3 separate regions of the Homo sapiens genome follow, and all the other regions are linked to region 1. Evidence: fine-mapped expression QTL. A gene starts in region 1. Each other region holds a variant in brackets. All regions are shown on one strand. Distances are from middle to middle. Region 1 holds the start of RPS6KA5 (ribosomal protein S6 kinase A5). Region 2 overlaps DGLUCY (D-glutamate cyclase). Region 3 overlaps RPS6KA5 (ribosomal protein S6 kinase A5).

The links. PIP is the estimated chance that this variant, and not a neighbour inherited with it, causes the effect. A credible set is the group of variants that fine-mapping cannot tell apart.
Region 2: its variant is the best candidate, but not a certain one, in a credible set for the expression of RPS6KA5 in whole blood (TOPMed, PIP 0.84).
Region 3: its variant is the best candidate, but not a certain one, in a credible set for the expression of RPS6KA5 in Th1/17 cells (Schmiedel 2018, PIP 0.54).

The regions. Positions count from the first base shown.
Region 1 is chr14:91,059,253-91,061,752 of GRCh38, reverse strand. RPS6KA5 (ribosomal protein S6 kinase A5) reads left to right here and starts at 1,112. Exons shown (of 17, transcript NM_004755.4): 1 at 1,112-1,421. The coding sequence starts at 1,319. It also overlaps a transcript of DGLUCY not described here. RefSeq lists silencers at 610-739, 960-1,019, 1,390-1,519, 1,590-1,659 and an enhancer at 802-1,382.
Region 2 is chr14:91,132,194-91,135,045 of GRCh38, reverse strand. All of the region lies in intron 1 of DGLUCY (D-glutamate cyclase), which reads right to left. Among named protein-coding and RNA genes, the nearest start is that of SNORA11B, 7.2 kb to the right of the region's middle. The variant C/G (reference allele first, on the strand shown) is at 1,125.
Region 3 is chr14:90,966,575-90,969,426 of GRCh38, reverse strand. The region is part of intron 3 of RPS6KA5 (ribosomal protein S6 kinase A5); the gene reads left to right. Among named protein-coding and RNA genes, the nearest start is that of RPS6KA5, 93 kb to the left of the region's middle. The variant C/T (reference allele first, on the strand shown) is at 1,309.

The sequences.
Region 1 (2,500 bases):
GCTGTATCTCTTACATCATACTTTCATCTAACCTTATCAATCACTTAACCCACCCTTGCCTTCTCTGCTGTAGGCCAATGCTCACAGTTACTCTCTCTGTGTGGAATGTCTATTGCTGGTATTTCTCTCTTATCCATCCTTTACGTTGGTTATCTCAAATGCCTCCTTGCCCTAAAAGCTTTCCCCAGTTCCTCGTCTGGGAATAATTATTGCCATCCGTGCGAGATTCTCTAACGCTTTGTACGACTGCTTTATTTCAAATTCTGCTTTATAGTTCTTTTGTGTACACACACAGATTGTTTCTCACGTTCTATTGAAAGCTGCTTAGGGGAGGAATTGTATTCTATTTTGTTAATCTCTGCATCCTTTCGGCGCCTAGTAAGAGTCTTGTACGAAACAGAAATGTCTCTCCTTCGTAAAATTCCTCATCGGGAGCTGGGACTGTGAATTTTTGTAACGTTTAAGAACTATCTGTTATTTAAGAACAAACACTCTGCTTAACTTGTTTAGGGTTCACTAGAGCGAGTAAGACCTTTTTAGGGCACGCCGTCTCGCTGGTTGTCACACACGCATGGATCGCTGCCGGGACCCTTAGGTTTGTCTGCAAACACGTGGGTGATAAGCGCTACCCTCCAGGCCCCTCCTCTGTCCACGGTGATTGGCGGACCAAACGTTCCAATCATCCCTCCCCGCCTCTTTCGGCAGTAGCCAATCAGAGACCCCGAGCGCCTCCTGACTACTAGACACTGTTTACTAACAGATCGAAGCTGGGGAATAAGGGGTGTGACCGTTCTGGGGAGGTCAGGGAAGGGAAGGTCTTGACTGCGAGTGCGCACCAGAGGAAATGGGCGGGGCAGAGCTTTGGGTCTCACCAATCGGAGTGGCGGCGCTCCTCCCTCTCCTGCCTCCCCGCCAAGCAACAACAATTCGAGGAGCGAGGCGGGGAGGCTCGTGAAACGTCACAGCGTACTGCCCAATGGGAACCGGCGTTGGCAGACGCGCGCGCCCTGTGTCCAATCAGCGAAGGCGGCTCGAATGGCTCCCTTACCTTGCTGGCTGTGGGCGGAGCGGCCTGAGGAGGCGGCGGTGGAGCAGGGGGCGGTTTGGTTGCGCGGTACTAGCGGTGCCCGCCGAAGGGGGAGGAGGCGAGGAGCGAGCCGTGCGGCCAGAGCGGGAAAGAGACTCGTCTTTGCGTCCGAGTTCTGGAGCCGCCGCACCCCGACTCCTGGGGCCGCGGCAGCGGCTGCGAGGGGACGGGCGTCCGCTGTCTCCTGGGTTCCCCTCGTAGCGACCCGCGGGATCGGAAAAAAAGGAGAAGATGGAGGAGGAGGGTGGCAGCAGCGGCGGCGCCGCGGGGACCAGCGCGGACGGCGGCGACGGAGGAGAGCAGCTCCTCACTGTCAAGCACGAGCTGCGGACTGGTGAGCGACCCCGCCCTCTGCCGGCCGGGCCCGGCGCGGGGGCGCGCCTGAGGGCACGCGGGTGCCCGCGCGGGGCTGGGGGCGCGGGGCCGCAGCCGTGGGCGCGGAGGGGCGGGCCTGGGGCGGGGCGTCGCGGTCGGGGCGCGTGCCCCGGGGGTCCCGGGAGGTGGGGGCGCGCCTTGGGGGAGGCGGCCGAAAGTTTTCCCCAGCCCGGGAATGAGCGGCGGGCACCAGGCATCGGGGCCAGCGCAGCCGCCGACCGCTGCCCGTGGCACGCACCTCCGAGGATGTCGCTGCTCCCCCTTCCCGCACAGGTGACACACGTGTGTCTGCGTCCTGTCAGGGCGAAAGGTGCGCCTGCCTCCGCGTGGGGCGAGCGGCGCTTTGTTTTGGAGAGTGTCTCCCTCCTCCGCCCCTCTGGTCCCCGCGATGGGGGGTCCCGGTGGGGCTCTGTGGAGCCATCCCCTAAGGTGCTGGGGTCCTGTAGGAGATAAACGGGAGGTTTCGCCTCGGGCTTTTACCGAGTCCAGTCTAGAGACAGGAACAGGAATCGCCGGCTCCAGGGATTGAGTGCCTTTATTCTCACTTATCATGAAATACTATACTTGGCCTTGAATTTCCTTCAGAGGTCCCTGGAGATGATGGCTTTAGAAATTTAAAGCTCCAGGTAAAAGGAACTAACGAGCAGGCTTCAGCGCTTACGTTCTAATGTTTGAGATCACTAGCGTTGTCCTAAGCTTTATAACTAATTAAATGTATTCGTGGTGTAGGTTCAGGTTGTTCATTTTGGAAAATGCTTATTCAGACCAATCAGTACAATTTGGATTTATATTCTTGGAGCCCAGTCTCGTATTGTAGATATATTAATACTTTTTTCTCTGAACAGATAGTACATTTTAATGAGTCGTTCGTTATTACTAGATATGTTTGTGAGCGTTGAAGGTTTTTGACAGAGCTGCTTTGGCATATTGGGATTTTTTTTTTTTTTTTTCAGACAGAGTTTCGCTCTTGTTGCTCAGGCTGGAGTGCAGTGGCATGATCTCGGCTCACCGCAGCCTCCGCCTCCCGGGTTCAAGCGA
Region 2 (2,852 bases), 73 kb before region 1:
GAGGCTAGTGGGAGGATTGCTTGAGCCTGGGAGGGGGAGGTTGCAATGAGCAGAGATCACACCAATGCACTCCAGCCTGGGCTACAGAGTGAGATCCTGTCACAAAAAGAAAAAGAAAAAAATGTGTAAAGGCTTGGGAAGGAAGAAAAAACGTGCAGATATTATGATTGCGTGGAAAACCCAACATTATCTACAAATAAATTATTAAAATTAGTAAGTGAGTTCAGGAAGGTTTCTGTATATAAAATCAATATGTAAAAGTCAACTGCACTTCTATACACCAGTAACAGTTAGAAATGTAATTGTGAGGCCGGGCACGGTGGCTCATGCCTGTAATCCCAGCACTTTGGGTGGCCAAGGCAGGTGGATCATCTGAGGTCAGGAGCTTGAGAGCAGCCTGGGCAACATGGCGAAACCCTGTCTCTACTAAAAATACAAAAATTAGCCGAACGTGATGGCACAGGCCTGTAGTCCCAGCTACTCGGGAGGCTGAGGCAAGAGAATCGCTTGAACCTGGGAAGCCAAGGTTGCAGTGAGCTGAGAGGGTGCCACTGCACTCCAGCCTGGGTGACAGATGGAGACTCTATCCCAGAAAAAAAAAAAAAGAAATGTAATTTTGAATGATACCATCTATAATAGCATGAATAAATATCAATTACCCAGGAATAAATCTAACAAAATATGTGAAATCGTTTATGGAAAATATGGTAAAACTTTACTTAAAGACATTAAAGAAGAACTAATAAATGGAGAGACAGCATGTTCACGACAGAAAGACGCAATGTTGTAAATATATCTGTTCTCCCTAAATTGTATATTCTAGGCAATTCCAATCAAAATCCTAACAGGTTTTTAAAAAGGAACTGAACACGCTGATTCCAAAACTTACAGGGAAGGGTCAAGGGCCAAAAAATAACAAATCGCTTTTAAACAAGAGCAACAGACAGGTGTGTGTTGGGGTTGGGGGCTTGTCCTCTACCAGATATTAAGACACAGAAAACTATGGTAATTAAGATGGAGTGAAAGGGCTCCCACAACTCAACTCAAAAAACAAATGAATAGTCCAATTAAATGGGCAAAGGACTCGAATGGCCCTTTCTCCAAAGAAGCTATACAAATGGCCA[C/G]TGAGCACATGAAAAGATACTCAACCTCATTACAGAACTGCAAATCAAAACCACAGTGAGATACCACTTGACATACATTAGGATGGCTATTATCAAAGACAAAAGCAAAATTAGAAAAGAAGTATCGGTGAGGACACGGAGTAACTGGAACCCTTGTACATTGCTGGTGTGATGGTAAAATGGTGTAGCCCTCTGTGAAAACAGTATGGCTGTTCCTCAGAAAATTAACATTGGGCTACAGGCGGTGGCTCATGCCTGTAATCCCAGCACTTTGGGAGATTGAGACGGGAGAATTGCTTGAGGCCAGGAGTATAAGACTATCCTAGGAAACATAGTAAGACCCCATCTCTAGAAAAAATATATATAATTTTTAAAAATTAAACATTGAACTACCATGTAATCCAGTAATTCCACTTCTGGTATATACCCAAAAGAATGGGAAGCAGAGATTCGAACAGATATTTGTATACCAATATTCATAGCAGTATTATCCACAATAGCCAAAAGGTGGAAGCCAATGTCCACTGATGGATGAATAGATAAACAAATTTGGTATATACAGACAATGGAATATTATTCAGCCTTTAAAAAGAATGAAATTCTTTGTTGTTGTTGTTGTTGTTGTTGAGACGGAGTCTTGCTGTTGTCACCCAGGCTGGAGTGCAGTGGCAAGATCTCGGCTCACTGCAACCTCCACCTCCCGGGTTCAAGCAATTCTCCTGCCTCAGCCCCCCAAGTAGCTGAGATTACAGACGCCTGCTACCACGCCCGGCTAATTTTTGTATTTTTAGTAGAGACAGGGGTTTCACCATGTTGGCCAGGCTGGTCTCAAACTCCTGACCTCCAGTGATCCGCCCACCTCAGCCTTCCAAAGTGCTGGGATTACAGGCGTGAGCTACCGCGCCCAGCCAAAAAAGAATGAAATTCTGATATATGCCATAACATGGGTGTACCTTGGAGACATGAAAGACATTATAAGTAAAAGAAACTAGACACAAAAGGACTAATATTATATGATTCCACTGATATGAGGGACCTGGAATGGTCAAATTCATAAAGATGGAAAGTAAAATGGTAGTTGCCAGGGGCTGGGGGAAGGGAGGGATGACTGAGGAGTTGCAGTTTGGGAAGATGAAAAAGTTCTGGCTGGGCGCAGTGGCTCACGCCTGTAATCCCAGCACTTTGGGAGGCCGAGGCTGGCAGATTACCTGAGGTCAGGAGTTCGAGACCACCCTGGACAACATGGCAAAACCCCATTTCTACTAAAACACAAAAATTAGCCGGGCGCAGTGGCGGGCGCCTGTAATCCCAGCTACTTGAGAGGCTGAGGCAGGAGAATCGTTTGAACTCAGGAGGTGGAGGTTGCGGTGAGCCAAGATCGTGCCACTGCACTCCAGCCTGGGTGACAGAGCAAGACTGTGTCTCAAGAAAAAAAAAAAAAAAGAAAAAGTTATGGGTCTCCCAAGTATCTTGGACTACAGGCATGCACCACCATGCTAAGCTAATTGTTTTATTTTTTGGTAGAGATGGGATCTCACTATGTTGCCCTGCCTGGTCTTGAACTCCTAGGCTCAAGTGATCCTCCCACCTTTACTTTCCAATGTGCTGGAATTATAGGAGTGAGGTACCACACCCTGCCCATAGTAATTAATATTTATTGTACTTACAAAAATATTGGTCTACAATGAATTTTGGAAAAAAATGAAGTTCAACACAGGAAATTTGAGA
Region 3 (2,852 bases), 93 kb after region 1:
ACTTTCTCCATCTGCTAATAAAAGTGTATGAACTGCAGAACAATGGAGAGATTTCTGAGTTCAACGTTAAGTCAAATCAGATGTGCAAAGACGAGCAGCCTGAAACTGTGCAACAGTATGTACTTAGAAAGTCAGAATTTTGATGGAGAGCACGTGCTGTTTTACCCTAACGTTAATTCCATAAGGTATTAATTGTCAGAATGATATGAGTTGCTTAAGAATCTTGGAAATTTTGTAGAGATCTTCAGTTCAAATTCTCAGAATTAATTTACTGTTTTAAGAAACAAATTTACTGGTTTAAAGGCTATTTTTCTCTCCTCCATTCTCTACCTGCCTTTCCATATACATACAAACACACATACACACACACGGCTTGCTATTCTGAATCCAAGAAGGAAATATTATTTCATAATAACAAAGTGAAATCTACTTGCTACTGTTAAATATCTGCATAAATTATGTGTCATTGAAATGAAATATAAATTGTTTTCCTAATATGAAAGATGTGTGACCTAAATTAAAGGGCTATTATTCTGCTAAAATAAAAAGATTGTTTTGGTTATTAACTGTGTGATCTTGAACAAGACACTTAAGTTATAAGCATGATCTACAAGTTGCTAATATATCAGTTGTCTTTTTCTGCATAACTAACCCAAAATTCAGTGGGTTAACATAACCATTTTTGAGGGGCTCAATTTGGGCTGATCCATAGAGGCAGTTTTTGTGCTATTTTGCTGCCTTTGAAACACTCTTTTCCTTTTTGCCCTTTGCAAAGGGCATAAAGTTAAGTAATATGAGGACTGAAAAGTATTCATTGACTCTAGTAACAAGAGGTTATTTTTAGCTTTAAGTTATGGTGTTATCATGGAGGTAGAAGTTGTACTGTAGTATGTTAAGGAATGAATAGAGGCTGTGGTAGACTGAATAATGTCCTCCCAGAGATGCCCACATTCTAATCCCCCAGGACCTGTCAGTATGTTGAGCTACATGGTAAAGAAGAATTAAGATTACAGATGAAATTAAGACCACTAATCAGCTGACTCTAAAATTGAGAGATTATTCTGAATTATCTGGTGTGGGGCCAATGTAACCACAAGGGTCCTTACACAATAGGAAGAGGGAGGGAGGGAGGAGAGAGGAGGGTGAGAGGGAGATGTGTCTACAGAGAAGGTCAGGTGATGCAATGTGAGAAGTGACTCAGCTGCCATAGCTGCCTTTTAGGATGAGGGAAGGGACCAGAAGCCAAGGAATGTGGGTGGCCTGTATCTAGAAGCTAGAAAAGGCCAGGAAACAGATTTTTCCCTGGAG[C/T]CCCAGAAGAAACGCAGTCCTGCTGACACCTTGATTTTAGTCCAGTGATGTCCATGTCAGACTTCGAGTGTACAAAATTATAAAATAATAAATTCATAGTGTTTACGCCACTAAGTCTGTGGTAACTTCCTATAGCAGCAATATGAAGGGAACAGTGGGTAAGGAGCATCAGCCATGTAGACCACGCTTTAAAGAAGTTTGGCAGTAAAATAAAGAAGAAAGACAAGATGGGACACGTGGGATTTAGGGAGGATGGTAGTGTGTTTTAAAATGGGAGAAATTTTATGTTTTTGAATTTTCACATTATTTGTGTGATTTCTGTGTTATTTTTATGCTTCTTAGAGACACAGTATCAGAGTGCTTCATCTGGCATTCCAAATACCAGAACATAAAAATCTTTAAAAGCAAGTTAATTGCACTTGAATAAAAACCAGATATCTCTGCAATTTTAAAACTTAGGATTGCACTGAAATATCAGTTATATAAGAAAATCTCTCTTTAGCTTAATACTAAGTAATTAGACCCTGGTAGTACTTTATGGAAATATATGTTAAACATTCATAAGTCTTAAAATTATGACCACATTGAGTATGTAAGTCAGGGCACAATAAATTTGATTTTTATATTTAAGTCATTATAATTAAGCTTGACAGTATTTTTCAAGTCTATAAATTGTAACTGATGCCTGTAAATAATAATAGGAGCTATTAGTTATTATTTAACAAATGCCTACTGTATGCCTGGCTCATAATCCTCAGTAGCTCATTTAATCCTCATGACAATCTTATGTGGAAGTTAGAATTATTTATATTAATATTTTGCAGTTATAGAATATTAGTCATCCTACATATAAAGAAGACCATTTAAGAAATACAAAGGAATTAAGATATAATCATTTACATGACATTTCTTTTAATCAAGAAACAAATCATTGGCACAAGGATCATATAAGGTATTCCATTGTATGGACTGTAAGTCAATTTCAATGGGATGATAAATGTTTTTTGGAAGGGTCACATTAATGAAATTTGCCTGACAGCTTCTGAGAACATGTATTAGAGTTAGCCCTACCTATTTATTTTTAATTATTGTCATAAAGATGGACTATTGATAGTTTTCTTTTGTTCTTCAGTTGTAAACAGAATAAGTCTGAAGACTTATCCTGAATTTATCTCTTGGAAGAGCTCAGAACTTGAGACATGCCCATCAAGAAAGATGTTCTTACTGTTATTACCAGTTCTCTTTTGCTTTCTCTCTTCTTTTCTATTTCTTTCTACTCTTTATCAATGCTGAAACTTAAGATGAAGAATCTACCTTAATACTTATGTGGCTACGGCAGTTAGTTACTGCAATATTACATGTTTACTCATTCCTTGCAACTAGTATTAGTGCCTTGTATTCGATAGGGCTAGACCCTGTGCCTGGCAGAGAGAAAATTGTCCTTGGACTTTAGTCTGCCTCTTTGGTGCCAGATCCCAACTTGACTTTCTGGCAGAATACATGTAAATTAGCTTTTAGAATAAAATGTACAATATGTAAATAAA